Regions from separate parts of the Homo sapiens genome. Here region 1 is linked to region 2. The links come from fine-mapping of genetic effects on gene expression. A gene starts in region 2. The other region holds a variant in brackets. All regions are shown on one strand. Distances are from middle to middle.

Region 1 (15,701 bases), 65 kb before region 2:
GCCACTGTTACCAGTGTTGCTCTCGGTCTGCCTCATACAGACCGGACAGCCCCGACCTAAATGAAGGCTCTAATCAGTGAGTCTCAAATCACCCAATTCTTTGTGAAGTCTTTCCTGATTGACTCCAGTCTTCCAGCAATTTCCCCCTCAACTGCATTTTAATATCACTGTGATATGACTACTTAGCCCCCAAGCCTTGCTCTAAATAGTCCATAGCTCTCAGGGACAGATATCTTTAAGTCACACACTGGCTGGGCGCGGTGGCTCACGCCTGTAATCCCAGCACCTTGGGAGACCAAGGTGGGCGGATCACCTGAGGTCGAGAGTTTGAGACCAGCCTGACCAACATGGTCTCTACTAAAAATAGAAAATTAGCTGGGCGCGGTGGCATATACCTGTAAATCCCAGCTACTCGGGAGCCTGAGGCAGGAGAATTGCTTGAACCTGGGAGGCAGAGTTTGCAGTGAGCCAAGATCACGCCATTGCACTCCAGCCTGGGCAACAAGAGCGAAACTCCATCTCAAAAAAAAAAAAAAAAAAAAAAAAAGTCACATACTAAGGCTGGGCGTGGTGGCTCACGCCTGTAATCCCAGCACTTTGGGAGGCAGAGGCGGGCAGATCACGAGATCAGGAGATTGAGACCATCCTGGCTAACACGGTGAAACCCCGTCTCTACTAAAAATACAAAAAATAAGCTGGGCATGGTGGCGGGCGCCTGTAGTCCCAGCTATTTGGGAGGCTGAGGCAGGAGGATTGCTTGAACTTGGGAGGCAGAGGTTGCAGTGAGCCGAGATTGTGCCACTGCACTCTAGCCTGGGTAAGAGTGAAACTCCGTCTAAAAAACAAACAAACAAACAAACAAAAAGACCCCAAAAAATCAGCTGGGCGTGCAGTAGTCCCAGCTACTCAAGAGGCTGAGGCAGGAGAATCACTTAAACCCAGGAGGTGGTGGTTGCAGTGAGCCGAGATCGCACCACTGCACTCCAGCCTGGGCGACAGAGACTCCATCTCAAAAAATAAAGTCACATACTGACAGGCTGGAACCATGAAGACGAGTGGCTACATACTTTTCTCAATGACTTTTCAAAACCATCATTACAAATATAATTACAAGACTTAATAATCATTAATAGCTTTAGATAATCAGGTTGATTTATAGGCAAGTCAAATGTATTCTCAAGAGGCCTTCTTTGCCAGGGTGGTGGGAAACAAGAGTTTCGCCTCTTCATAGGCACAGCCCCCGTCTGTGTAGTAGGCAGGATGAAACCAGGGCTCCAAAGCCTTCTTTTTCCCTCCCCTCCCTACATTAATCTACCTGCTTCCAAGGAAGGACCTGCTCAAATTACCTACCAGCCCTTGGTGGTACACAGGGTTAGAGGAGTTATCCCTGGACTTAGGCAAAGAAAAATCAATGAGAGAACCTAACAGAACAAGAAAAGGCATGGATTGTCAGTGCCACAAAGCATAAACGCTTCTGCTCGTGAAATCTTGAATTTATAACAATTAGAAAAAGTATAAGCATCCTGCAAGAGTGAATTGGCTGAAAACACATCCAAAGAGCCAAACACCACTTAAAATTATTTATCTAAAGCTATTAATGATTAGTAAATCTTTTAATTATGTTTGTGATTTTTTTGTTTTGAGATGGAGTCTCCCTCAGTCGCTCAGGCTGGAGTGCCATGGTGTGATCTTGGCTCACTGCAGCCTCTGCCTCACGGGGAGGGACTCTCTTGCTTCAGCCTCCCGGGCAGCTGGGATTACAGGGGTGAGCCACCACACCCGGCTAATTTTTGTGTTTTTAGTAGAGATGTGGTTTCACCATGTTGGCCAGGCTGCTCTTGAACTCCTGATCACAAGTGATCCACCTGCCTTGGCCTCCCAAAGTGTGGGATTATAGGTGTGAGCCACTGCACCTGGCCTAATGGTGGTTCTGATGCAATTTTTATCAAAATAAAGATGCCCATCCTAGGAGAAAATCATTACAAAATGATATGCTTACTATGCTACCATTTTTAATTTAAACTCTATACACATAGATACATAGAAAAAACTAGCCAGGGCCAGGCACGGTGGCTCACACCTGTAATCCCAGCACTTTGGGAGGCCGAGGAGGGCGGATCACGAGGTCAGGAGATCGAGACCATCCTGGCTAACATGGTGAAACCCCATCTGTACTAAAAATACAAAAAATTAGCTGGGTACGGTGGCACATGCCTGTAGTCCCAACTACCAGGCTGTAGTCCAGCTACATGCCTGTAGTCCCAGCTACTTGGGAGGCCAAGGCAGGGGAATTGCTTGAACCCGGGAGGTGGAGGTTGCAGTGAGCTGAGATCGTGTCACCGCACTCCAGCCTGGCGACAGAGCAAGACTCTGTCTCAAAAAAAAAAAAAAAGAAGAAAAAAGTAGCCAGCTACACAAGTGTTTATTACTGGTTGGTGAAATCCTAAGTAATTTTATTTTTCTTTTGCCTTTTTGAGATGGAGTCTCGCTCAGTCGCCCAGGCTAGAGTGCAGTGGTGCGATCTCAGCTCACTGCAGCCTCTGCCTTCCAGGTTCAAGTGATTCTCCTGCCTCAGCTGCCCGAGTAGCTGGGATTACAGGAGCCCACCACCACACCTGGCTAATTTTTGTATTTTTAGTAGAGGTGGGGTTTCACTATGTTGGCCAGGCTAGTCTCAAACTCCTAACCTCAGGTGATCCACCTGCCTTGGCCTCCCAAAGTGCTGGGATTACAAGGGAGAGCCACCGCACCCACCCTTTCTCCCCCTTTTTTTGAGATAGGGTCTCGCTCTGTCGCCCAGGCTGGGGTGCAGTGGTGCAATCATGGCTCACTGCAGCCTTGACCTCCCACGGCTCAGGTGATTCTCCCACCTCAGCCTCCCAGGTAGCTGGGACTACAGGTGTGTGCCACCACGCCCAGCTAATTTTTATTTTTTTGTAGGGACGGGGGTCTCCTTATGTTACCCAGGCTGGTCTCGAACTCCTTGGCTCAAGCGATTTGCCCGCCTCAGCCTCCCAAAGTGTTGGGATTATAGGCATGAGCCACTGTGCCAGGCCAATTTTGTTTTTCTTAACTGTAGATTATTTTCCTAAAATAAACATGGAGGCCGGGCGCGGTGGCTCACACCTGTAATCCCAGCACTTTGGGAGGCCGAGGCAGGTGGATCACAAGGTCAGGAGTTCGAGACCATCCTGGCTAACACGGTGAAACCCCGTCTCTACTAAAAATACAGAAAATTAGCCAGGCATGGTGGCACATGCCTGTAGTCCCAGCTACTCAGGAGGCTGAGGCAGAATCGCTTGAACCTGGGAGGCGGAGGTTGCAGTGAGCTGAGATCGTGCCACTGCACTCCAGCCTGGGTGACAGAGCAAGACTCCGTCTCAAAATAAATAAACAAACAAACAAACAAATATGATTACTTGCATAAGAAAGTCAATAGTCCAAATTATCCTTTTTTTTCTTAAACATTTACTTAATGTCTTAATAACAAAAATACCAGTTTTTTTGAATAAGTGAAAATTAAACATCTATGCTCTCTTTTTGAGGAACCGATGACTTCCAAAGGTGTTTATAAAAGCCAGAACTCTACCAGCGGAGTGGATATAAGACTAAGAGTTAACAAACCACATAAAAGGTGGCCGGGGAGTGGGGGGAATCTTCCCTTTGAGACAAGGAAACAATCAGTTTACTAGGGGAATAGTGGCCTTCTAACAGGTGAAAAGAAGAAAAGGAGACCAAACAACCTGTTTCATCCTCTATAAATAAAACCTTGGGCGGCATATTGCCAAAGAAACATGAGTCAATATAAACCTTTACATACTGGGCGGCCAAACTTCACTTTTGGACAGTATATTAATTATGTAGTCAATAACCATGGGTTTCATTAGTGTATTAAATACCACGATCAATAGTATTTATACTTTTTGAAGACAGCCCACTCAGGAAACAGAAGTGGGGGAGGGGAACATTTTTGACCCTGCAGTTCAAAAAAGGAACAGCACGCGAGAGATTAGCAAGGTTTTAATGGAAAGCATAAAACACTGGAAATATGGACAGAAATCAGATTATTACCCTTTTATTTTTTTCCCTGCCCCTTTCACAATGAGACTGGAGGGAATTCAAGAACCACTTGAAATAAAGGCGAAATGATTAGATTTTTTTCTCCTAATTGCCTAACGCTGATGTCATGGTGTACGCAAAATCAACATTGATCTCTAAGTGAAAGAGGAGAAACAGAACAACATCAACAGCCTTTCGAGGTAAACTGTGGGCCAGAATCTATTTAGGCAACCCGCAGGGACCAAAATCTCTGAAAAGCCCAACAGTGGAGCCAGTTTCTGATGCTCCTCTGCTGGTGATCTGATCTTTGAGTGGGGAAATCTGTTAGAAACAGCCTCCTCGAGGGAGCCCTCCCCCTGGCACTGCCCCTGGGTTCCCAATCACATCCACGGAGACGTGCTGGTTTCATCACGCTGGCCACTGAGAAGGCGCGAGGACAGGTGTCAGCGTTCCCTGGACACGTCCTGTCCTGGTACCACGGCTGGTCAGGCCTCTTCACTGTGTGGACAGACACGTGGGGAGAGGAGGGAATGCTGGGAGTAGTAGGCATGAAAGACTGGTTACTGGGCTGAAAGCTAGATCGCCACTTCCCAGCCACAATTTGTCAATCCAGAAGAGGGTTGAAGACTGTAATTTTCTCGTCGATGCTTTATAAGCAAGGTCAGACAGAAAAGAACTTCCGTAAAAATGGCTGAGGCCTCAGTCAGAGACTGAAATGCGACCCAGTTACCATCTCCTGAGACTAGAGAAGGGTAGGAAGGAATGTGTCTAAACAATTAGTGAGGCTGAGCAGGAGTCCCTCTGTGTCTGTCCTCAGGAACGGAAGTCATCCCGTCTAGGGCTGGCTGGCCCCTATGTCAACGGCAGACACCGAGGGGGGAGACAGACAGGACACCATCACTCCCCATATCCAAAAGCCTCCGCAGGCGGCATGTGCAGTGATGAACAGCAGGTCCTCTGGCTGCAGAGTGACCGCCGCACTGCCGGGGTACGACGGCGAGATGTGCGGCCAATGGCAGGCGGTGTGTTGCAGCCACCGGATAGATAATTAATATGATTAGGAACACACAGAGCGAGCATGCTTTTGCTGACTGAAAGGCCCACTAGCATAATTACTGTTTTCTTACCAGCTCACTGTCTGTACACATTTCAAAGCGTGGTTGGTGTTAGACTGCTGCGTAAACATCAATAAAATCCCAAGTGCCAGATCATCAGCATCCTCAGGCAAAATGGCTTTTTGTTTTTAGTGTTTTCATGCTTTGAAAGATGCATTTCAGGGCTGCAAACACTAGGAAGAAGGATCTCCATGCCTTGGACTAATCTTCGGGTTTATAATGAGTTAACATCCCCCCCAAGTGAACATTTATTATGAAGGCTAATTAATTGCTTTCCAGTTATAGGAACTCTTTGCATTCAAAGAAAGTAGGATTCACAACCAAAGAATATACTGTTTATTAAAACAAAGCAAGGGAAACAAAAGGCTTCAAAATCCTTTCCATGTAACATAGCTTTAGTCAAAAAAAACAAAATACATGAATGCAGGAATGTGTACAGGTAGAAAAAGTACGCACTCACCAAGCGAAGCGCAGCATTAATTGAAGTGAGAAGTAAAGAAACGCTTTGTAGCCGCTCGGATTTCCTTAGGGGACGGCAAGTCAATGCTTATCAGCGGTCCTCAGAAGAGACAATTTTGATTAATATCAGACCCATCTGACTCAGTCTATTAAACCCTGAAGGAAGGATACTCTTCAGATATAGAAGATATGCCTTTGATTAATCATTCTACCCTATTGCCATTCCAAGCATTACCAACTATGTAGCACCTCTAGAAAGAGAGAGCCTTC[G/C]AATTCTAGGAAGACACACTTACTAAAATCCCCAGGTGCTCATGACCGCTTCTCAGCTCGCCCCGCTGAGAAGAACCCAAGTTGTGAGCGGGGATGGGGGGGGGTGGTCACCACTGGAGAAGCAAAAACCTAGTTACATAATTTACTTCATGGTCTGCAGTTAGGGTCAGTGACTTACGACATAATTCCTGCTTGATGATAATGAAATTGACAGAAGCCTGAAGGCAGAGGGAGTGACTGGTCTTGCGCTAGCCACTGGCTGACTCCGTAGGCCTGACACAGTCTACACCACAACCACCTGAGCGTATTTTCCTTTGCCTACCGATGGGTTCTGAGATGCGCACGAGGGGGGAAATTGCTTAGTCCACCATCAAGAGCCTCTGCACTGTGTAGCTAACATGGGATCGTCACACGGAGGTGGGAGGAAATCGATTCCATTCTGCCTATTTGCAAACTTCTGCCCGATTGGCACTGCTCCTCTCACATCAATGCACTTCTCCTGATGCTCATGACCAGCCTTCGGCCATACTCTCTGTAGTCCACGGGCTTCACGTCCATCACAGTGGCCTTAATTCGAGACTCGTCCTTCAAAAAGGGAGAAGTAGTTTGTGAGCAGTGAAAGTGTGGTGTGGAGCAGTGAAACCCCTTTTGCTTCAGTGGTTTCAGTGAGCCCAGCGGGAGGGAACAGACGCACGGGTTCAGAGTTCAGTCATTCCAGTGAGTGACAGCCTCCTCCTGAATGTCTGGGGCTGGGCGAGTGAACAGGTCCTTTCTCCAGCACAGGCCCTTCTGATTCTTTACCCAAGCTCCCAAACACCCAGAAGCCTAGAATCCTAGTGAGATGGACTTTAGAGGGTTTCTCTAGTTTCATTTATTCTCCCTACTGCAGGGGATACAGCCCAGAGAGGACATGTGACTTGCACAAAGCCACACAGCTAGTTCTGAAAGCTAAACTTTCAAACTTTCATTTCAAGAAAAGCTGAGTGGTGAAAGGAAGAGCACCTGCAGCAGAGGGAGAGGACCGAGTCTGTCCTGTCTCAGCTCTGGGGAGGCAGCCTCTCTTCACTTCACCTTCCCTGTCCAGACACGATGGGGCTGAATGGCCCCAAAAATCCCCCCCAGCCCCACCCCACTCCCTGACATTGTTTCACGGTGACATCTGATCCCCTATCTCATTTAATGTTTATAGTAGTCGCAGAAGAACGGGCGTTAAGGTAAATACGTGAGTAAACCCTGCAATCAGCAGGGGCGTTTCTACCACTCCCCCTGCCCACTCGTACGTTTACACTCACGGCCTGAATGGTGCCTTTCCGGGCAGAACGGAGTGATACCCAGGAAGGCTGCACAGGCGAGCTCGGGGCTGTCACACTGCTGTGTGCTTGGTCGGTACTAAATCCCGTGATACTCGTAAGCATGATCAAAAGCAAAGCTCTGAAGTCAGGCTGCCTGGGTTGGACGTTAGCTCGACCACTTGCTAGCATACAACTTAGGCAAGTGACTTGTTCTCTGAATGCCCGTGTCTCTCTGTATGTAATTCCTTCAGTGGCAAAATAGGGTAACCACAGTTTCTACATATAGGGTTACTAGGCTCAAGTGAGATGTTCCACGTAAAGGATGTAGAACAGTTACCTGGCAGACCATGCTCAATACTGTTTGATTATAACTATAACTAAGCTGGGCGCGGTGGCTCATGCCTGTAATCCTGGCACTTTGGGAGGCTGAGGCGGGTGGATCATCTGAGGTCAGGAGTTCGAGACCAGCCTGGCCAACATGGTGAAAACTCCGTCTCTACTAAAAATACAAAAATTAGCCGGGCATGGTGGCGGGCGCCTGTAATCCCAGCTACTCGAGGGGCTAAGGCAGGAGAATCACTTGAACCCGGGAGGCGGAGGTTGTGGTGAGCCAAGATCGTCCCACTGCACTCCAGCCTGGGTGACAGAGACTCTGTCTCAAATAAATAAATAAATAAATAAATAAATAAATAAATAAATAAATACTATATGGTATTATGGGCAATTTCAGGAATTTTCAAGGTAGTTTTAACCACACGTGGCCTTTGTTTCATATACTGACTGACTGACTTAGAAACGGGGTTTCACTATGTTACCCAGGCTGGCCTTGAACTGCTGCCTCAGTCTCCCAAGTAGCTGGGACCACAGGCACACACCACCACGCCCGGCTCATATACTTAATATACTTTTCTACAATCTAAATTTGTCAAAGATATGACTCTACTGCATGCGTTATAATTTTTTTGTCAGAACACAGACGAAAAAATCCTAGGATTTAACTGAAAAAAAATAAAAATAAAAAAAATAAACAAACAAAAAAATCCATATTGTATTCCCCACCCCCCCGCCATTGTTTCGACAAGACACTTAAGCTCTCTCTCCTTCCTCATCTGAAAATGGGGATCATAACAGCACCTGTGTTGGGCAAAGTCAGCACCGGGGTCTGGCAGTGAGTACAGTAACTCCCTGCCAGGGAGTGTCACGACACTGCCGTAGGTGACAAACAGCACCTCCCCACCACCAACCCTGCTGCCCAGGCCCTTACTTACGTTGTAGGTCTCCACTTTGACCCTGACTCTGAATATGAAAGATCGGAAGTTGGCATTCTGGAAAACTTCTTCAAATGCCTGTTCATTCTGCAAAAACAAACATAAAACTTGACACATGGAAACCACTGGACAACTTGCAAATACTGATAAGACTTTTAAAAAGACTTCTGAAAATGCATCTCCTGGGTAGTTTCAAATTACTTAGGAATGACTCATCTACAGGTAACATTACATGAAACTGTTTTAAGTAGAATCTTATTGAAAATTAAAACACTAATCACATTCATAGAAGGTAGAATGGCAGTTGTCAGGGCCAGGGAGAAGAGGGTTTTGGAAAAGGAGCTATTGCTTAATGTGCAGAGTTTCAAATCGCCACCCATGAACAGTGTGTCTCCATTCTCCCCTTCCCTCCATCCTTGGAAAACACAAGGCTGTCGTCTGTCTCTATGAATTTGCCTATTTAAAAAAGTACTGGAAAAGGATGGTGGTGACAGGGGCACAGTAATGTGAATGTACCTAACGCCACTAAACTGTACACGTAAAAATGGTTACAAAGGCAAATTTGGTTATGTATGCTTTACTAGACACAAAAAATTAAAAACGCTCTTAGGAAGTTTCTAAGACTTTAAGGCTGGGCACGGTGGCTCATACCTGTCATCCCAGCGCTTTGGGAAGCGGAAGCGGGTGGATCACTTGAGGTTGGGAGTTCAAGACCAGCCTGGCCAACACGGTGAAACCCCATCTCTACTAAAAACACAAAAATTAGCTGGGCATAGTGGCAGGTGCCTGTAATCCCAGGTACTAGGGAGGCTGAGGCAGAAGAATTGCTTCGACCTGAGAGGCGGAGGCTACAGTGAGCTGAGACTGCACTACTGCACTCCAGCATGGGCTATGGAGCGAGACTCTCAAAAAAAAAAAAAATTAGGAGGTCAGGTATGGTGGCGCGTGACTATAATCCCAATGTTTTGGGAGACCGAGGTGGGAGGACTGCTTGAGGCCAGGAGTTCAAGAATAGCCTGGGGAACATAGCAAAACCCCATCTCTACCAAAAAAAAAAAAAAAAAAACTTAAGCCAGGTATGGTGGCGTGTACCAGTAGTCCCAGCTACTCAGGAGACTGAGGTGGCAGGACTGTCTGAGCCCAAGAGTTTGAAGCTGCAGTGAGCCATGATCGCACACCACGGCGCTCCAACATGGGTGATGAGGCAAGACCTTGTCTCAAAAAAAAGAAAAAAAGGAAAAACACTCAGAAGAAAGTTCAATATAATTCGTGATTTCAGCCTCTGTATTTATAGCTACTGATTTGGTGTGCAAGCAGAGAAGACTGTTGAGGTGCGCAAAGGCTAGGGAAGGCCTAAAAACAATCCTTTTCCCTCTCTCACTCCTCAAATGCAATTTAAGTTTATTAAAAAAAAAAAAGTCTGGTAAACAGACAAGAATTAGAGAATATAGTTTGTATAAAGATGCATAAATAAATGTGTAATAACTATATTAACAGAGTTGATTGAGACCTTTGACAAAAAAAAAGAAAAACTAATTAATAGTTCACACCAACCTAGTGTTTTTTGCAAGTCACGCACGGCGTGAAAGCAGCTTTGCTATACAGAACTCTTTTCTGTAAAGGTTACTTGATCAAAACCCAAACCCAAACCAAATGGACTTTCAGATATGAAAATAAAACAATGGGTTAAAGCTTGAGAAAATTACACCGGCTGCCATTATGCTTCCAAGATGAGGGGCGTGGAGTGCGAACTCCAGGATCTCACGGTTCCTCGGGGAAGTTTCTATATGTCCTCATTCACCGGCAGAAAAAACAGTCAAATATAATAAGCTCATAAAAATCCTGAAAGGCTTACTCGGGCCTTAAAATCTGATACGAAAATTGAAGACCAGGTAAAAACAGACAAAAGATACTATCACACTTTAAAGTCAATTCTAGTTATTTCTGTAACAGGATTTGTTGAGACTATTTTGAGAGCTCTCATGGACAATTTAAAAAAAGAGTCAGGGCAGAGCCCAAACAGACAGAACTGGGGACAGGAAGAAAAAGAAAAACACACCAGAACAAATGGCAAAGCCTTTCATCTTTGTGGCCTTTACAAGTATTCCAACCAATTTGGAGGAAATCGGGGGAAAAGCCATCTACAGAAAGGTGCCCATTTATGTGGCCCAGAAAACATAGCTTTTATTGGTCTTCCTTATGTTTTACCTGAGCAACTACCTTTCCTAAATTCAGCATTATTAGCAATCTATTCTGTACATTAAATAAACCTAATATGTGAAAATGCAAACTTATAAAAATGAAATGGACAAAGTTACCTTACGGAAGAAAGTCACCGCATAAGAATTGCATCTGATGGGCTGAAATGGCAGGCACCTTATATGTGCATTTATTATTATTGTTTTATAGGACAGACCCAGGAACTTGACATACGTGCATTTTAACCAGGATCTGACTCAACTTTTCTGGAAGGTATTTACTATGTTAAAAAAGCATGCCTGTAATAATTCAGGTTGTTTCAGGGACACCTCCCGACCTAAGTCATCTCAGGCACACTAGCTCTGATGTGCTAATAGGAACAGGAGAAACGGGTGGCTTCGATTTAGAAAGTGCTTTGGTTTTAAAGTACTTTTATATACATTATTTCACTGTTAAGCACATCCCAAATGGACAAGATTAGATAACATCAGATGAGCTCTTAAATAATTATCAGGCTGAGAAACTGTATACAAACAATACCAAAAAGAAACAAACTAAAAAATATTAAACAGCAAAAAGAGGGCCAGTGTTGGGCAAGGTGTGGTGGCTCACACCTGTAATCCCAGCATTTCGGGTGGCTGAAGCGGGCAGATCATGAGGTCAGGAGTTCGAGACCAGCCTGGCCAACATGGTAAAACCCCGTCTCTACTAAAAATACAAAAACTAGCCGGGCATCGTGGCGGGTGCCTGTCATCCCAGCTACTCAGGAGGCTGGGGCAGGAGAATCACTTGAACCCGGGAGGCGGAGACTGCGGTGAGCTGAGATCGCGCCACTGCACTCCAGCCTAGGAAACAGGGCAAGACTCCATCTCAAAAAAAAAAAAATGTGTGGGGTCAGTGTTATAGAATGAGAACCATTAAAAGTTATAGAAGTTATAATAAAATATGTGGCTGACCTTGTCTTTTAATTCCCCAAGATAAGCAGCATTTTGTCCAAGGATAGCTTCAGCAGACTCCTGGAAACAAGTCACCCACTGATTCTCTTGAAAATCTGCAATATTTACCTAAAAAACACAATTCTACATTATTTCAGCAAAGAAATAATAAAAAGACACACTGAGAAGATGGGGAGAGGTTAATGTTCTTTTTCCACTTATTAAAATAATTTCCAGAGAGGGCCAGGTGCAGTGGGCTCATGCCTGTCATCCCAGCACTTTGGGAGGCCAAGGCGGGTGGAACACTTGAGGCCAGGAGTTTGAAACCAGCCTGGCCAACATGGTGAAACTCCGTCTCTACGAAAAATACAAAAATTAGCCAGGCATGGTGGCGGGTGCCTGTAATCCCAGCTACTCAGGAGGCTGAGGCGGGAGAATCACTTGAACCCGGGAGGCGGAGGTTGCAGCGAGCTGAGATCGAGCCACTGCACTCCAGCCTGGGTGACAGAGAGAGGCCCATCAGATTAGTTCCTGTCGAGGTGCAGCTGGCTTTGGATGAAGGGTTTTGAGTGAATCGGGGGAGTTCTCTGCATTTTCAATTGCCCACTCTGTAGTTCCTAGGAGGAGTTCCATGAGACGGCTCTGTCACTGCTGGGCACCCAGACAACTGAAGAGCCTGCCCGTGAGCCTCTGTCAGTCACCAAATTGACCTGGCAAAGGAAATGAGCAATCAAATGTCTCCCACTGGGCTGTGGTGTAACATTAAACAGGGCAAAGTCAAGGAAGAAAGCAGATCTCAAAGAATCCACTTGCTGAAGTAAAAGCCTTTGTAGAAACACGAGTGGTTTTTCTTTAAGGCATCATTTTGACGATTTTACATCTTCATTTTGCATGGGTACAAGGCTTTTAATAGAGAGAATGTTATGACGAAAAATAAGGTGACGAAACCAGTTAAAAGTGAAAAGCGCTCTCAATACACAGCAACGGTATCACACCCTGGGCTCACACTTCCTTTAACCCACGCTATCCTTCTAAGAAGCAAAGAGCATCTCATCACACAGGGCAAGAACTACAATGACGCACACGTGTGATAAATATCAAATCAAACAAGTGTGCGGGAGATTGCGCTGTGGAGTTTAACAGAAAGGCTGATGTTTCCACAAACTAAAACAAATTTTCTTCATCTTAGTTCAATGAAAAGTTTATAGTTTACAAAAAATGAGCCTAAACGTAGAACTGTCCTGCTAAGCTAACATTTCATTTTATTTATCATTTATTAATTTAATTTATTTATTTATTGAGATGGAGTCTTGCTCTGTCACCCAGGCTGGAATGCAGTGGCGCGATCGTGGCTCACTGCAAACTCCACCTCCCGGGTTCATGCCATTCCCCGGCCTCAGCCTCCCTAGTAGCTGGGACTGCAGGTGCCCGCCACCACGCCTGGCTAATTTTTTTGTACTTTTAGTAGAGACAGGGTTTCACTGTGTTAGCCAAGATGATCTCGATCTCCTGACCTCGTGATCCGCCTGCCTCAGCCTCCCAAAGTGCTGGGATTACAGGCGTGAGCCACCGTGCCCGGCCTATTTATTTATTTTTTAAAGACAGGGTCTGACTCTGTCACCCAGGCTGGAGTGCAGTGCCACGATCATGGCTCACTGCAGCCTTGACCTCTCGGGCTCAAGCGATCCTCCTACCTCAGCCTCATGAGTAGCTGGGACAAGTGCATACCACCACAGCCAGCTAATTTTACTTTTTGTAGAGACAGGGTCTTGCCATGTTGCCCAGGCTGATATCGAACTCCCAGCCTCAAGCAATCATCCTGCCTCAGCCTTCCAAAGTGCTGGGGTTACAGGCACAAGTCACTGCGCCTGGCCAATATGAACATTTTTCAGGCTTCTGATATATTACTGCCAAATCATCCTTTGGAAAAATGTGAAACTGTTTTCTTTTTCTCTTTTCTTGAGATGGAGTTTTGCTCTTGTCGCCCGGGCTGGAGTGCAGTGGTGTGATCTCGGCTCACTGCAACCTCTGCCTCCCGGGTTCAAGCGATTCTCCTGCCTCAGCCTCCCGAGTAGCTGGGACTACAGGCACCCGCCACCACGCCCGGCTAATTTTTGTATTTTTAGTAGAGACAGGGTTTCACCATGTTGGCCAGGCTGGTCTCAAACTCCTGATCTCAGGTGACGCACCCGCCTCGGCCTCCCAAAGTGCTGGGATTACAAAAGTGAGCCACTGTGCCCGGCCTTAAACTGTTTTCTTAAACTGCTATTATCGCCTAGTTCTATCATTGAAAACAAAACAAAACAAAATAAAAATCTTAAGGCCGGGTGCAGTGGCTCAGGCTTGTAATGCCAGCACTTTGGAAGGCTGAGGTGGGAGGATGACATGAGGCCAGGAACTTGAGACCAACCTGAACAGCAGAGCGAGACCCTGTCTCTACAATAAAATAATTTTAAAAATTAGCTGGGTGTGGTGGTGCACAGCTGTAGTTGCAGCTACTTGGGAGGCCAAGGTGGAAGGACTGCTTAAGCCCGGGAGGTTGGGGCCACCATGAGCTGTGATGATACCATTGCACTCTATTCTGGGCAACAGAGTGAGACCCCTGTTTCTTAAAAAAAAAAAAAAATTTTTTTAAACCCAACTTTACAACTTTTTTAAAAAGGTTTTTAAAACAGAAAGAAACAATTCTTAAAATGCAAAAAAGCAACAATCTCACATCAGCACACCGTCACATTCCTCTGAAGTCAGCTATACTAAAGCTAGAGAATAGATTATCCACATGAAAGTGACTAAATACGGGCATTGGCTGTGTAAGTACAATTAGTGCTGTCTATAAATGCCGTTTTCAAATTAATTTATCTTCATAGCAGTTAGCAGGCAAGTGTCACTGACGCTATGGCTGTATGACGTGCATGAAAGACTGAATCAGCTGGGGTATCTCAACACCACTTTCTGGCATGAAAAAGCGGATGGATAAGCTCTTCCACACCTACTCATCTGCGGGCTTCCTACCAGGAATGCTTTGTCTCTACTGTTGTGACCACAGTGCCTGGCACACGGGAGGGCCTCCGTGAACACAACCGTGGTTCTCATCTACCGAGGCTACTTACTGACAGGATCATGCGGTACTTGAAATTGGGAAATTCGGTGTCGCACTTCTCACAGCGGTACAATCCATTCTGTTGATCAATCACTTTCTTATTGCAGTCCTGAGTCGGGCAGGCTTGGTACATGCAGTTCTCTTTGCGAAGATACACCACTGTGGCCACAGAACTAAAGTAGTCCGGCTTCGGGAGAAAAGAACAGCATGAGGCACGGAGTCGCGAGCCCGCCCAGGATCGGACCGAGAGGCAGCTCAAAGCCTGCCCTTACGTTTAGGTGGTAAGTGTTTCTACATCCTCAAGATTACACATGATCACAGGGAATCATTCATTCTGTAGTTTTAGAAATCACATGTGCCGAGTACAAAACCCATGAAGGTAATAAGCCAAGTTCTAATAAGCCAAGTTCTGAGGCAGATAATTCCTTCACAATAAAAGAGTTAATCCTAAATTACACTAAGTTAATTAAAAGTGAAATTGTTTTCCTGTTTGCTTGAACACTGTATGAAAGACAAAGATTTGTTCCTCCCGATCCTCTGACCCTCCAAAGGCCACAGATCTAGGAAATACAGAATGCGGACCACAAACACCCAGTGCAGCAACGATCAACCATCCCTCCCGCGCTCAAAACACGGCAGTCGTGTCTAGGCCTAGATTCACCTTTTCCTTGTTTAGGCCAGGGATCAGCAAGCTGCTTCTGTAAAAAGCCAAACAGTAAATATTTCAGGCCTTAGCAGCCATTTGGTCACAGTCTCTGCTGCAACTACAGACACACCTCACTTTATTGTGCTTTGCTTTACTGCACTTGACAGATACGGCATTTTTTACAGATTGAAGACTTGTGGCACCCCTGGGTCAAGTAAATGCACTATTTTCCCAATAGCAGGTGCTCACTTTATGTCTCTGTGTCACATAAAGACAGTAATTCTTGCAAGATTTCAAACTTTTTCATTATATATGTATTTTTTGAGACAGAGTCTCGCTCTGTCGCCCAGGCTGGGGT
Region 2 (15,701 bases):
AGGCTGAGGCAGGAGAATGCTGTGAATCCGGGAGGTGGAGCTTGCAGTGAGCCGAGATCGTGCCACTGCACTCCAGCCTGGGTGACAGAGCGAGGCTCCATCTCAAAAATAAAAAATTAAAAAAATAAATAAATAAAGTGACTAAGTAACTCAATGAAATGGGATAGTGTTTTCAATAAACAGGGCTGGAACAACTGAATATCTGTATTTAAAAAAGAGCTATATATCATAGATAAAATAGTAAACTTGAAATGCATTACAGACCACAAGGCAAAGCGAAAACTATAAAACTTCTGGAAGAAAACACAGCATAAAAGATTTGTGACCTTGGGTCGGGTAGGCAAAGATTTCTTTTTTTTTTTTTTTTTTGAGACTGAGTTTCACTCTTGTTGCCCAGGCTGAAGTGCAATGGTGCGATCTTGGCTCACCACAACCTCCACCTCCTGGGTTCAAGTAATTCTCCTGACTCAGCCTCCTGAGTAGCTGAGGTTACAGGCATGCGCCACCACGCCCGGCTAATTTTGTATTTTTAGTAGAGACGGGATTTCTCCATGTTGGTCAGGCTGGTCTCGAACTCCTGACCTCAGGTGTTCTGCCCGGCTTTGCCTCCCAAAGTGCTGGGATTACAGGCGTTAGCCACTGCACCCTGCTGTTTTTATTTTATTTATTTAATTATTTTTTTGAGACGGAGTTTTGCTCTGTTGCCCAGGCTGGAGTGCAGTGGTGCGATCTTGGCTCACTACAAGCTCCGCCTCCCGGGTTCACGCCATTCTCCCGCCTCAGCCTCCCGAGTAGCTGGGACTACAGGTGCCTGCCACCACGCCCAGCTAATTTTGTATTTTTAGTAGAGACGGGATTTCTCCATGTTGGCCAGGTTGGTCTCGAACTCTCGACCTCAGGTGATCCGCCCGCCTCAGCCTCCCAAAGTGCTGGGATTACAGGCATGAGCCACCACATCCAGCCTAGCAAAGATTTCTTAGGACACACAAACACAACTCTGCAAAAAACAAAACAAAAACAAACAAAAAAACACAACCTGATAACTTGGACTTCATGAAAATTTAAAAGTGCACTTCAAAAAAAACAAAATTTCAAAAAAGAAAAGGCAAGTCACAGATTGGGAAAAAATATATGTAATATTTATATTTAACAAAAGACCTAGCAAGAATCAAGAATTCTCACAACTCATTAATAAGCACAAAACCCAATTTTTAGGTGAACAAAAGATGTGAACAGACACTTCTTTCGTGAAGATATACAAATGGCCAGTAAGCCCACGAAAAGATGCTCAACGTCACTAGCCACCAGAGAAATACAAATAAAAGCACAGTGAGATACCATTACACATTCACTAGAATACTCGAAATCAAAGACTGATGACTGGCAAGGATATGGAGCAACTAGAATTCTCATGATCACACTGGAAAAGGTTGGCGATTTCTTTTACACATTCAGTTACCTGTGACCCAGCAATTACATTCCTAGATATTTATCCCAGAGAAACGAAAACATATTTCCACAAAAAGAGTTGTACTTAAATGGTCATAGCATCTTCATTTATAATAGCCAAAAGATGAAAATAACCCAAATGTGCAATAATAAGTAAATAAACAAATTTTGTTATAGTCATACAATGGAATACTACTGAGCCATAAAAAGGTGCAGATTACTGAATTAACATGGGTAAATCTCAAAAACCATTTTGGTCCACAGTGGTGGCTTGTGCCTGTAACCCCAACACTTTGGGAGGCCAAGGTGGGAGGATCACTTGAGCCCAGGAGTTCAAGATCATCCTGGACAACACACCAAGACTCCATCGCTACAAAAAATATTTTTAGGCCGGGCGTGGTGGCTCACACCTGTAATCCCAGCACTTTGGGAGGCTGAGGCGGGTGGATCACGAGGTCAAGAGATCGAGACCATCCTGACCACCGTGGTGAAGCCCCGTCTCTACTAAAAATACAAAAATTAGCTGGGGATGGTGGCATGCGGCTGTAATCCCAGCTACTCGGGAGGCTGAGGGAAGAGAATCGCTTCAACCCAGGAGGCAGAGGTTGCAGTGAGCTGAGATTGCGCCACTGCACTCCAGTCTGGCAACAGAGCAAGACTGTGTCTCAAAAAAAAAAAAAAAAATTTTTTTTTAATTAGCCAAGAGTGGTGGCATGCACTTGTAGTCCCAGCTACTCAGGAGGCTGAGGTGCGAGGATCTCTTGAGTTCAGGAGGTCAAGGCTGGAGTGAGCCATGACTGTGTCGCTGCACTCCAGCCTGGGTGACAGAGACCCTACCTCTGGGGAAAAAAAAAAAACTGCTGAAAGAAGCCAGACACAAAAGGATAGATATTATTTGATTCCATTTATATGAAGTCTTAGGAAAGGCAAAACTAACCTACAAAGGTAGAAACCAGAACACTGGTTGCCTAGGGTGAGGATGGAGGTGGGGAAGGAGCAAGAGGAGTTGTGCGTTGATGGAAGTATTCTATATCTCCACAGGGGCAATGTGGTTACAGGGGTGCGCACATTTGTCAAAGTTCATCAAGCTGTACATTTAAAATACGTGCAATTTGGCCGGGCATGGTGGCTTATGCCTGTAATCCCAGCACTTTGGAAGGCCAAGGCAGGAGGAGCATCTGAGGTCAGGAGTTCGAGACCAGCCTGGCCAACATAGTGAAACCCCATCACTATTAAAAATACAAAAATTAGCCAGGTGGTGGCGTGCACCTGTAACCCCAATTACTAAGGAGACTGAGGCATGAGAACTGCTTGAACCTGGGAGGCAGAGGTTGCAGTGAGCTGAGATCACGCCACTGCACTCCAGGGTGACAGGAGGAAACTCTGCCTCAAATAAATAAATAAATAAATAAAAAAGGTGCAATTTACTATACGTAAGCAAAATGTCAATGACAGTGATTTTTCTAAAAAGCAGTTATTCTGGGGAACAGTACTGGACAAGGTAAGGCAGGAGGTCAGTAATTACATTAAACACCTCTTTCTTTCTTCTTTCTAAATGAAATAGAGACAGGATCTTGCTATGTTGCCCAGCCTGGTATCAAACTCTTTCTTGGCCTCAAGGGATCCTCCTGCATTAGCCTCCCCAAGTGCTGAGAGTACACATGTGAGCCACCATGCCCGGCCATGAACACCTTTCTGTTCCGTTTGATTTTAAAACCACGTGCATGTATGAGGGGGATTCAAAAAGTACACGAAAAATGTGCATTATGAAAAAACTATGCATGCATTTCAAAAATTTTTTTTGCACTAAAATAAACTCATACTAACTTGTTATAACATGTCTGAACAAGACCTAGTTTGAGGTACTAAGAAGGATAAGACATCAGTTTGAAAAGAGCCCCTATCAGAGCAACATGAATTCTGCTAAAATGGAAACAACAACAAACAACAAATTCAAGGGGAAGGTTGGGTGGAAGAAGGATGAGATCACTTATGAAAGAAAAGTATATGGGGACGATGCTCCAAAGAAATCAGCTGTTTACAAATGTAACTCATTTTAAGGGACAAGGCCAGGCACAGTGGCTCATGCCTATAATCCCAAAGACTTGGGAGGCAAGGCAGGAGAACTGTTTGGAGACCAAGAGTTAGAGACCAGCTTAGGCAAGATGGCGAAACCCCATCTCTACACAAAATTAAAAAAAAAAAAAATTAGCTGGGCATGGTGGCATGCACCTGTACTCCCAGCTACTGGAGAGGTTGAGGTGGAAGGATCACTTGAGCCCAGGAGTTGGAGGTTGCAGTGAGCTATGATCATGCCACTGCACTCCAGCCTGAGAGACAAAGAACAAGACTCTGTCATTTAAAAAAAATTACGGCCAGGTGCAATGGCTCAAGTCTGTAATCCCAGGACTTGGGGAAGCCGAGGCGGCAGATCACTTGAGGCCAGGGGTTCAAGACCAGCCTGGACAACATGACGAAACCTCATCTCTACTAAAAATACAAAAATTAGCTGGGCGTGGTGGCGCACGTCTGTAATCGAGAGACAGAGGCAAAAGAATCACTTGAACCTGGGAGGTGAAGGTTGCAGTGAGCTGAGATTGTGCTTCTGCACCCCAGCCTGGGCAACAGAGTGAGACCCTTTAAAAAAAAAATCCCTAGTAAGTATATAAAGCAACAAATGTAATACTCAAGGGCACATGTGTTCAAATCTTCACCCCATGGACACATTATTCAACCTCTCTGTACTTCCTTCCTCTGTAAAATGGGAGTATAATAGCTATCTTCTAGGGTTACTTAAGTACTGACTACTAAAGCATCTGTCACATTAGAAATAGTCAAAAACATTAGTTCCCTTCCCCTTTCGTTATATAATTAAGATACAAATGCTATGTATTCTGTTGACCACAAGAGTTCTATGCATCATCTCTTATTTTATCATGTGACTCTTGCCCAAACGCCTTCACATGTGTGTGGTATTTGCGTACCCTTTGTGGCCTGTGTCTTTTGAACGAAAATGATACCTGCTTTAGCTGATAATGAAAGTCAGCAAAGGTTCTCCAACTCATTCCATCACCACAAACACATGTGAAACTTTCATTCTTCATTTATGAACAAAATACTTCACCTACGCTGGAAATAGGTTTATAAAATTTTGAATATAAAAACATGGCCAGGTGCAGTGGCTCACATCTATAATCACAGCACTTTGGGAAGCTGAGGCGAGAGGATCGCTTAAGCCCAGGAGTTTGAGACTAGCATGGGCAACAGAGTGAGACCCCATCTCTAAAAAATAAAAAAACTTATCAAATTATTTAAATATCTCCATGATCATTCTTTATTTTTTTTTGAGACAGTCTCACTCTGTCGCCCAGTCTGGAATGCACTGGTGCAATCTCGGCTCACTGCAACCTCTGCCTCACGGGTTCAAGCAATTATCCTGCCTCAGGCTCTCAAGCAGCAGGGATTACAGGCACACGCCAACACACCCAGCTAATTTTGTATTTTTAGTAGACCAGGGTTTCCCCATGTTGGCCAGGCTGATCTCGAACTCCTGACCTCAAGTGATCCACCTGCCTTGGCCTCCTAAAGTGCTTAGATTACAGGCATGAGCCACTGCGCCTGGCCCATGATCAGTCTTTTTAAAAGTGAAGAACCATTCTTTTCTTTTTTTCTTTTGAGATGGAGTTTTGCTCTTGTTGCTGGAGTGCAATGGTGCGATCTTGGCTTACCGGAACCTCTATCTCCCGGGTTCAAGAGATTCTCCTGCCTCAGCCTCCCAAGTAGCTGGGATTCCAGGCATGCGCCCCCACACCTGGCTAATTTTGTATTTCTAATAGAGACAGAGTTTCTCCATGTTGGCCAAGCTGGTCTCAAACTCCCAATCTCAGGTGATCTGCCTGCCTTGGCTTCCCAAAATGCTGGGATTACAGGCGTGAGCCACTGCGCCTGGCCTAGAAACATTCTTAATTTGTCTTAAAGACACAAGGTAGCAGCTATAAAGTAAATGAAAGCTACAATTTAAAATCACTTCCCCGGTTTCAGCATTCACACATTCCTAATTTATTTAAATATTCACTTGAGTCCAACAATAGTTCTTCCTGTTCCTGTTTTTCCCCCAAGCTGCCTTTCTTCCCCATTCACCTGTCCCTTTCTTCCCACTGCCTCATTCATTCATGCAACTAGCAAGCATTTATTCAGCACCTAAAACTTGCCAGCACTTCTCCAGGTATTGGGGATACAATGCAGAGTAAAATAACCCAGACATGATTGCAGGCCTCATGGAATTTACACAAAGTATTAGGCCAGGCACAGTGGCTCAAGCCTGTGATCCCAGCATACTGGGAGGCCAAGGTGGGTGGATCTCGAGGCCAGGAGTTCAAGACCAGCCTGGCCTACATGGCGAAACCCTGTCTCTACTAAAAATACAAAAATTAGCAGGGTGTGGTGGTGGGCACCTGTAATCCCAGCTTCTAGGGAGGCTAAGACAGGAGAATCGCTTGAACCCGGGAGGCAGAGGTTGCAGTGAGCCGAGAATGTGCCACTGCACTCCAGCATGGGCAACAGAGCAAGACTCTGTCTCAAAACAAACAAACAAACAAACACAATAATTTTAAAATTTTAAAAAGAAACTGATAAATCAACAAACATAAAACTGCAATTATTAATAGGTAACATAAACACTGAGCATTTACTATGTATCAGTGTGCTAAGCACTTTAAATTTAATAACTCACTCCATCCTCCTACTTACCTTATGCAATAGATATCATTGCTCTCATTTTACAGAAAAGAAACAGTTTAGTATCTTGCCTCAAGTCATGCATCTAATAAGTGAATGGGGTCGTGCGCGGTGGCTCACGCCTGTAATCCCAGCACTCTGGGAGGCCGAAGCAGGTGGATTGCTTGAGGTCAGGAGTTCGAGACCAGCCTGGCCAACATGGTGAAACCCCATCTCTACTAAAAATACAAAAATTAGCCGGGCATCATGGCAGTCTCCTGTATTCTCAGCTACCTGGGAGGCTGAGGGAGGAGAATTGCTTGAACCCAGGAGGCGGAGGTTGCAGTGAGTCAAGATCGTGCCACTGCACTCCAGCCTGGGCAACAGAGCAAGACTCCATCTCAAAAAGAAAAAAAATAAATAATTCAATAAGTGAATGAACAGGAATTGGGGTCTCAAAGGGATTTAGCCTAGTAAGGGAAGTCACAAATGAGCTGAGATACGAAGATAGTGTTTGCCAGTGTGGGGAAGAGTGAAGAACCACCCAGGCAGTGGGCAGAGGGAAAAAAATGTTCAGGGCCGGGTGCGGTGGCTCACTTCTGTAATCCCAGCACTTTGGGAGGCCGAGGAGGGTGGATCACCTAAGGTTGGGAGTTCAAGACCAGCCTGGGCAACATGGTGAAACCCCCGTGTCTACTAAAAATACAAAAAATTACGCAGGTGTGGTGGTACATGCCTGTAATCCCAGCTACTCTGGAGGCAGAGGCACGAGAACTGCCTGAACCCAGAAGGCAGAGGTTGCAGTGAGCCGAGATTGCGCCACCGCACTCCAGCCTGGGGCGGTAGTGGGGGGGTATGGGGAGAAAGAGTGAGACTCTGCCTCAAAAAAAAAAAAAAAAAAAAAAAAAAGGCCGGGCACAGTGGCTCACGCCTGTAACCCCAACACTTTGGGAGGCCGAGGCGGGCGAATCACAAGGTCAGGAGATCGAGACCATCCTGGCTAACACGGTGAAACCCCGTCTCTACTAAAAAATACAAAAAATTAGCCGGGCGTGGTGGCGGGTACCTGTAGTCCCAGCTATTCGGGAGGCTGAGACAGGAGAATGGCGTGAACCCAGGAGGCAGAGCTTGCAGTGAGCCGAGATCGCGCCACTGCCCTCCAGCCTGGGCAACAGAGCAAGATTCCAGCTCAAAAAAAAAAAAAAAAGTTCAAAGGCCCCATGGAAGAAGGTAGGAGTATGGAATATACCAGAAATCTAAATTTAAAAAAAAATGTGGGGGTGACTGGAGAGGTAGGCTGAGAGTATGCTGTGGATGGGAATGGTGGCAGGAACGTATGCTGAGTGGAAGTCAGCAGCTCAGGCAAAAAAAAAGACGGTGCCAGTATGGATGGAGAGAAGCCAGTGGGCTTGATAGATCTACGCAGAGGCAAAATACACTTCACTTCGTGAGGGACTGGATGCCCAGGTAATGGACAATATAGGAGGAATGATTTCTCAATTTCTGGTTAGCACTGAACTGAATAGATAATGGTGCCATCCGTGGAGATAGGGATCAAGAGGCCCAGACTTAGAAAGATAAAGAATTTGCTTTGGGATACGTATACTGAACTTAAAACCCTCTGAAGCATGGAATAAGCAGACAGATGACGGAAGTTTGTCTTTTAGAGTAAAGGTGGCTCTGTACAAAGAAATTTGTGAGCAACTGACATATATTAATAGATGGCAATGGAATTGCCTTGGGGCCAGGCGCGGTGGTTCATGCCTGTAATTCCAGCATTTTGGGAGGCCGAGGCGGGCGGATAACTTGAGGTCTGGTGTTCGAGATCAGCCTGGCCAACATGATGAAACCCAGTCTCTAATAAAAACACAAAAAGTAGCCGAGTGTGGTGGCGCACACATGTAGTCCCAGCTACTCGGGAGGCTGAGACAGGAGACTCACTTGCACCCGGGAGACGGAGGTTGCAGTGAGCCGAGATCGCGCCTCTGCACTCCAGCCTGGGCGACAGTGAGTGTCGCCCAGGCTGGAGAAAAAAAAAGAAATTGCCTCGGGAGTCAAGAGGGCCTAGAGGGAGCCTTGATTCAACAAAAATTTACAAAGAGGGACTTACAAATAAGACGGGGATAGACCTGCCAAGCTGAGCCACTAAAAACCAAGGAAGAGGGTGTGACCTGAAGCAAGCAGGGCTTAAACGCAAACGCTGCTGAGAACTCAGGTAAGCTGAAAACGGAAAAGGGCTGGATTTAGCAACTTGGAGGCCACTGGTACCTTCAGCCAGGGTTTTCTACAGCGATCAAAGGGATGACTGGAGTGGGTTAAAGAGTTGATGAAAGGCGAGGAAAGGAAGTGGCTGAAACCAGACAAGAAGTTTGGCTGTGGGTGGGGAAAGGAGAAGAGACAGAAAGTGTCCGCAGGTGGAAGATGCAGAGAAAGGCAAGCGTTTATTTAGTTTGTTCTTACGTAGGAAAAATGTGAGCATGTTTTAAAGACGATCGAAAGAATGCTTTGAGGAGGGGGCGATGACACTAGAGGGACGCCCGGCGGGTCCCCACCGCCCCCCGCCATCTCCTCCCCTCGCGTTCATCCCCCGTCGCCCCGGGCTCCCCTCCCCCTCTCTACTCCGCGAGGCTCGGGGCCGCAGCCACCCCGGACCGCCGGCCCAGCCCCCGGCACCTCCTCACCGCAATGGCCCCCTCGCTCAGTTGGCCGACCATGGCTCCACCGCCAAGACTTCCCCGCGGACCCCGCAACAGCTCCAGCTTCCCCACCCGGGTCCCGCGCGCTGCGCAGTTATTGGCCCGAGAAGTTGCGCGCACCGCTCCCGCCCCCGACGTGCGCGCGGCTCAGGGGCGGGCCCGGGCGCTACGCAGCCGCCGCATTGGCCGAGGCGCGGCCCACGTGACCCACCCATGGTCCCAAGCGAGGCCTGGCGCGGGACGCCGGACGCGGTGCGGGGCGGAGCGGGGCGCCAAGGGGCGCGCCAGGAGCTGCGCGGGCGCTGGGAGGGAGACCAGGGCGCAGTTCCGGGCGCGTCTGAGCGGTTCTCGAGGCGTTCTCGCCTCGGTCTCTGGCGAGTGCACGGGTTGGTATCCCAGAGGAGGTTAAAGCTGTTCCTTGAGACCTCCGCTGCTAAATAGAGTCGCAGTAGTGACCCGATTCGTCCAGCAACGCGGGGCTGACTTCCCGCCTCCAAGCCCTGAGCTTGGCACCGTGGCGGTGGGGGGTGGGGGTGGGGGGTCTCCGAAAGGGAATCAGACCCGGCCCCCGTCCTTAGAGAAGAGGACAGTGTGTGGGGGCACTTTATGCCGTCAGTAACCCCACCTCCAGGTAGACGTGGTACAGGCCCCAAGGGTGTTGGAATCACAGCTGGGAAATCAGGGACGCCGTCCCGGAGGAGGTGCCATTTGAGCCGAGTCGAAGAACGTGTGGGAATTTTCCAGGTGGACTCCATAAGCCAGGGTAGGGTTGGTCCGGAAAGCATGAGTAGCCTATGCCAAAACATTGGAGAGTTGAAATAGCCTGGCAAGCCGGGGATAGCAATGAGTTGTTCAGTATGCAAGGGTGCATGCAGAGGAGTAAGTGACACCTGAGAATTAGAAAGTCAGACAAGGGTCAAGTAAGGATGGTTTTGTCCTGGGCTTCCTGGTATGCTTGGAGTAGCGTTGATGAATTTAAGGGCAGAGCACTGACTTCTGTCTCAGTGTTGGAGGCTGGATTGAAAGTGGGGAGTGGTGCCAATGGCATGGACATTAATTATAACACTCTAGGAAGAATGCCAGACGAGATGGTGAGGACTTAATCAGAACGCTGAACTATGTAAGAGAGGGAAATACCTTGTTAAATGAATAGTTGCTGGGGTGGGTGAGAAAGAAAAATCTGGGATGTGTCTCAGAGAAACTAGAGAGGGATCAGGCCGGGCGCGGTGGCTCACGCCTGTAATCCCAGCGCTTTGGGAGGCCAAGGCTGGCGGATCATCTGAGGTCAGGAGTTCGAGACCAGCCTGGCCAACATGGTGAAACCCCGTCTCTACTAAAAATACAAAAATTAGCCGGGCGTAGTTGCGCGCATCTGTAATCCCAGCTACTCGGAGGCTGAGGCAGGAGAATTGCTTGAACCTGGGAGGCGGAGGGTGCAGTGAGCCGAGATGGTGCCACTGCACTCCAGCCTGGGTGACAGAGCAAGACTCTGCCTCACAAAAAAAAAAAAAAGAGGATCTAAGAGCACAGATGGTAGCTATCTAGTCTGCTTCGTCTTTGTATAACCATCACCTGCATGGTGCCTGTGACAAAGTAGTCTTTCAGTAAATATTTCTGAATGGAAGGATGTTGAGTGAATTGCTGTGAGAAAATATAGATCCTTCCTTAGCATATAAACTAGAGGAAAAGACCACAAGAATTGATTTTATTGTTTCAGGCTTCCTTGAATGAAATCTTGATTTTCCTTTTTTTTTTTTTTCCGAGACAGAGTCTTGCTCTGTCACCCAGGCTGGAGTGCAATGGCGTGATCTCAGCTCACTGCAACCTCCGCCTCCCCAGTTCACGCAGTTCTCTTGCCTCAGCCTCCCGAGTAGCTGGGACTACAAGTGTGCGCCACCACACCTGGCTAATTTTTTTGTAGTTTTAGTAGAGACGGGGTTTCACTGTGTTAGCCAGGATGGTCTCCATCTCCTGACCTCGTGATCCACCTACCTCGGCTTCCCAAAGTGCTGGGATTACAGGTGTGAGCCACCGTACCTGGCTGAACTCTTGATTTTCTAAAATTGTGCATTTGTAAGATTCCTATTTTCTTACTCATTTTATAGATCAAAAGCAGCATGGATCTGCCTGTGGATGAATGGAAATCATATCTGCTTCAAAAGTGGGCTTCACTCCCGACGTCTGTTCAGGTCACAATTTCTACAGCAGAGACCTTGAGGGATATCTTTCTTCACTCCTCTTCACTTCTTCAGTAAGTAAATCAAGCTTTAACAAGGGAATTGTGAGCCAAAAAATGTTCTATTTTGTCATTTGCTCTGAAGTAATGTGTCTTTTTCTTAAATAAAGATTGAGTCTTGCTTGTTTCCCAGGCTGGTCTCAAATTTCTGGGCTCAAGCAATCCTCCCACCTTGGCCTCCCAAGGTGCTGGGAGTACAGGCGTGAGCCACCATGTCTGGCCTGGTAACATCTCTTTTTGATGGAAAATGCCTGAAGTACTTTTCCTGGTTCGTTTCTATCCCAGCGTGTCCTGTGAACTAATTCACTTCTGTCATCCTGCAGGATTAGCCAGATCTTTCCTCAGGAAAGCTCTCCCTGAGCCTCAGCTGGGCCATCTTCACTCTTTGTACATTTACAATGCTGTGTGATTTTCCTTTATATATGTGTGTGCTCTTTTGACTAATGCCTGCCTTTGCCGCTAGATTGTGAACTTCATGAGGGAAGGGACCGTGTTTGTATTTGTTTTTCTTTTTTTTTTTTTCTTTTTTTCTTTTTCTTGAGACTGTCTCGCTCTGTCACCCAGGCTAGAGTGCAGTGGCGCAATCTCAGCCCACTGCCTCCGCCTCCCGGGTTCAGGCAATTCTCGTATCTCAGCTTCCCGAGTATTTGGGATTACAGTCGCACACCACCATGCTCGGCTAATTTATTTATTTATTTATTTTTATTTTATTTTATTTTTTTTGACACAGGGTCTCACTCTGTCACCCAGTCTGGAGTGCAGTGGCACAATCTCAGCTCACTGCAATCTCCACCTCCTGGGTTCAAGCGATTCTCATGCCTCAGCGTCCCAAATAGCTAGGATTACAGGCGTACACCATCATGCCCAGCTCACATTTTTGTATTTTTAGTAGAGACAGGGTTTCACCATGTTGGCCAGGCTGGTCTTGAACTCCTGCCCTCAAATGATCCGCCCGCCTCAGCCTCCCAAAGTGCTGGGATTACAGGCATGAGCCACTGTGCCCGGCCTGTTTGTCTTTCTATAGACAAAAATAGTGCAGTGTCAAAAAATAAGTGGTTAGTAAACATTAATTGAATGACAACTTGGTAATGTATATAAAGTTCTTAGTTTAGTTACTGGCTGTTATTAGTGCTTAAAATGACGTATAAAGCAGAACCTTATATATTTGCAGATCCAGAAACACACACCTTTCACGTTCAAGGTTGATGTCTTTATCTTTGTGCCAGGCACATAGTAGGCGCTCGTATATTAATTGAATGAAATAATGAGTTCAGTTTTGAGCCTTGCCAGTTCAGATACTCGGTACAGTTAGGGTTATACTTTTTTTGTTAGTCTTCATTTCTTTTCTTTTCTTTTCTTTTTTTTTTTTTTTTTTTTTTTTTTTGGACAGAGTTTTGCTCTTGTTGCCCAGGCTGGAGTGCAGTGGCACAGTCTTGGCTCACTGCAACCTCCGCCTCCCAAGTTCAAGTGATTCTCCTGCCTCAGCCTCCCGAGTAGCTGGGATTGCAGGCGCATTCCACCATACCCGGCTAATTTTGTATTTTTAATAGAGATGGAGTTTCGCCATGTTGGGCAGGCTGGTCTCCAACTCCTGGCCTCAGGTGATCCGCCCGCCTTGGCCTCCCAAAGTGCTGGGATTGCAGGCATGAGCCACTGCGCCCGGCCCCCCAGTGCATTTTTATTTCTCGTGTGTATTGCCTATTTGTGTCCCTTGCCCATTTTCTAGCAGGTTGTCTTTATTCTCTTGTTCATTTGTAGGAGATCTTCATAAATCTAGCTGTATAGTTCTTTGCTATGTAAGTTACTATTTGTTGTATAAATTATTCCCAATCTGTTTATCTTTTTTACCCTATTTACAATGTAAATGTTTTACATTTACATTGTATATAAATTGTGTATATATGTTTCAAATTTTTAAATTTCATTTAAAATTTATTTTTAGACACAAGGTCTCAGTATGTTGCTCAGGCTGACCTCAAGCTCCTGGGCTCAAGCGATCCTCCTGTCTTCCTTAGGATGGTGGAGTGAACCATCCTAAGCAAGACACAACCCAGAAGGTATAAAAGAAGATGAGGTTGGGTGCGGTGGCTCATACCTGTAAACCTAGCACTTTGGGAGCCAAAGGTGAGAGGATTGCTTGAGCCCAGGAGCCTGGGCAACATAGTGAGATTCCATCTCTATAAACAAATTTTAAAAATTAGCCAAGCATGGTGGCATGTGCCTGTCGTCCCAGCTACTCAGGAGGCTGAGGTGGGAGGATCACTTGAACCTGGGAGGTCAAGGCTGCAGCGAGCCATGATTGTGCCACTGCACTCCAGCCTGGGTGACAGAACAAGACTATTTCTCAAAAAAAAAAAAAAAAAAGAAAGAAAATGACAGATATGGCTGTATAAAAATGAAGCCAGACAACATGACATGTGCCTGTAATTCCAACTACTTGGGAGTTGATAAAAATGTTCATTGTTTTCTGCTAACATTTTTTTACCTTTAGCTCTCTAATCCTTCTGCACTTTTTCCTCCATCTTTATTGAGGTATAACTGACAAAATATACGTTTAAGGGGTACAACATTATGTTATGATGTATGTATACATCTCCAATTGATTTTGTGTACTATGTGAAGGAATATTCTCACTTTTTTTCCAGGTGGACAATTTTTCTGTAGCATTTAATGCATGACGCATCCTTTCCCCAGTGCTTGCAAATGCCTCAGTTATTAAAATTAAATTCCTACTCATGTTACTCCATTCTCACGTTGCTATCAAGAAATACCCAAGACTGGGTAATTTATAAAGAAAAGAGGTTTAATTGACTCACACATGGCTGGGAAGGCCTCAGGAAACTTACCATCATGGTGGAAGACGAAGGAAAAAAAGGCACAGCCCTCACAGGGTGGCAGGAAGGAGAAGTGCTGAGCAAAGGGGGAAAGCCCCTTATAAAATCATCAGATTTCACCGGGCGCGGTGGCTCACGCCTGTAATCGCAGCGCTTTGGGAGACTGGGGCAGGAGGATCACTTGAAGTCAGGAGTTCAGGACCAGCCCAGCCAACATGGTGAAACCCCATCTCTACTAAAAATGCAAAAAAAAAATTAGCCAGGCATTGCGGCATGTGCCTGTAACCGCACCTACTCAGGAGGCTGAGACAGGAGAATTGCTTGAACCTGGGAGACGGAGGGTGCAGTGCGCTGAGATTGTGCCACTGCTCTCCAGCCTGGGCAACAGAGCAAGACTCCATCTCAAAAAATAAAAATATAAATATAAATAAAATAATCAGATTTCGTGAGAACTCACTCACTATCACGAGAACAGCATGGGGAAACCACTCCCACGATTCTGTTACCTCCCATCAGGTCCCTCCGACAACACAGGCTTCTGGGAAATAACAGTTCAAGATGAGATTTGGGTGGGGACACAGCCACGCCATATCACTACTTATCCACAAATTTGTTTCTAGGCTCTAGATCTGTGCCGGAACAAAAGGGTTTTAATTACTGTGACTTTATAGTGTATTTTATTAGTATTATTTTTCTTTTGAGACTGAGCCTCCCTCTGTCGCCCAGGCTGGAGTGCAGTGGCGCAATCTCAGCTCACTGCAACTTGTGCCTCGTGGGTTCAAGCGATTCTCCTGTCTCAGCCTCCCAAGTAGCTAGGGTTACAGGCACACGCCATCATGCCCGGCTAATGTTTGTATTTTTAGTAGAGACGGGGTTTTACCATGTTGGCCAGGCTGGTCTCAAACTCCTGACCTCAGGTGACCCATCCACCTTGGCCTCCCAAAGTCCTGGAATTACAGGCGTGAGCCACCCCACCTGGCCTATAGTGTCATTTTAGAAACTCTAGAACTCTTCAGTTTCAAGTAACAGAAACCCCCTTCAAAGTATGAAACTTTTAGCTATGAAACTAGGCTATCTGAAGGGAGATCTATTTTCAGGCTAGGTTGTATTCAGGGGCTCAAAGGATGTCATCAGAATGTGTATTTCTTCATGTGTCAGACAGATTCTCTCCATCTAGTGGGTGCTATAACCATTCACAGCCCTGGGCACACCCTGATAGTGTAATAACACCCCAGGGGAAGAGGCTGTCTTTCTGAAGTTTCAGCAGAAAACTTCTGGGTGGGGCTCAGGTCAACTGAATTTTGATCACATGCACATCCCTTCAACCAGAGGTATGAGACTCCTCTGATTGGCCAGGCCTGTGTCATGTGCCCAACCCTGCTGTGAAATGGGGTCTACCCTTCTTCAGCCTCAAAAAATGGATTCCCCACTGAGATTTACCGGAAGTAGAGAGAAAGGGTACTTGAAAGCAGGGGAGTCTCAGTACCCAGGCGGCTCCCAGGAAGTGGCCCAGAGGCCAGCTTCCTGCTCGCACACACATAGTCATTGTTCGTATTCCAGAATATCTTGGGTATTTTGTGTGCATTTCCCCCATGTGAACTTTAGAATTGGCTTGTCAAGTTCTTTTTTTTTTTTTTTTTTTTTTTTTGAGACGGAGTCTCGCTCTGTCACCCAAGCTAGAGTGCAGTGGCGTGATCTCGGCTCACTGCAAGCTCTGCCTCCTGGGTTCATGCCATTCTCCTGCCTCAGCCTCTCGAGTAGCTGGGACTA

The links. PIP is the estimated chance that this variant, and not a neighbour inherited with it, causes the effect.
Region 1: its variant is fine-mapped to the expression of RPA1 in whole blood (TOPMed, PIP above 0.99). The same link has a PIP of 0.9 or more in T cells and lung.

What each region holds. Positions count from the first base shown.
Region 1 is chr17:1,887,858-1,903,558 of GRCh38, reverse strand. It overlaps RPA1 (replication protein A1), which reads right to left. Exons shown (of 17, transcript NM_002945.5): 14 at 14,708-14,884; 15 at 11,619-11,726; 16 at 8,464-8,550; 17 at 3,477-6,488. The coding sequence ends at 6,384. Among named protein-coding and RNA genes, the nearest start is that of RPA1, 66 kb to the right of the region's middle. The variant G/C (reference allele first, on the strand shown) is at 5,904.
Region 2 is chr17:1,823,272-1,838,972 of GRCh38, reverse strand. RPA1 (replication protein A1) reads right to left here and starts at 8,968. Exons shown (of 17, transcript NM_002945.5): 1 at 8,847-8,968. The coding sequence starts at 8,879. SMYD4 (SET and MYND domain containing 4) reads left to right here and starts at 9,071. Exons shown (of 11, transcript NM_052928.3): 1 at 9,071-9,247; 2 at 10,967-11,112. The coding sequence starts at 10,979. RefSeq lists enhancers at 7,572-8,072, 14,889-15,028 and a silencer at 8,700-9,219.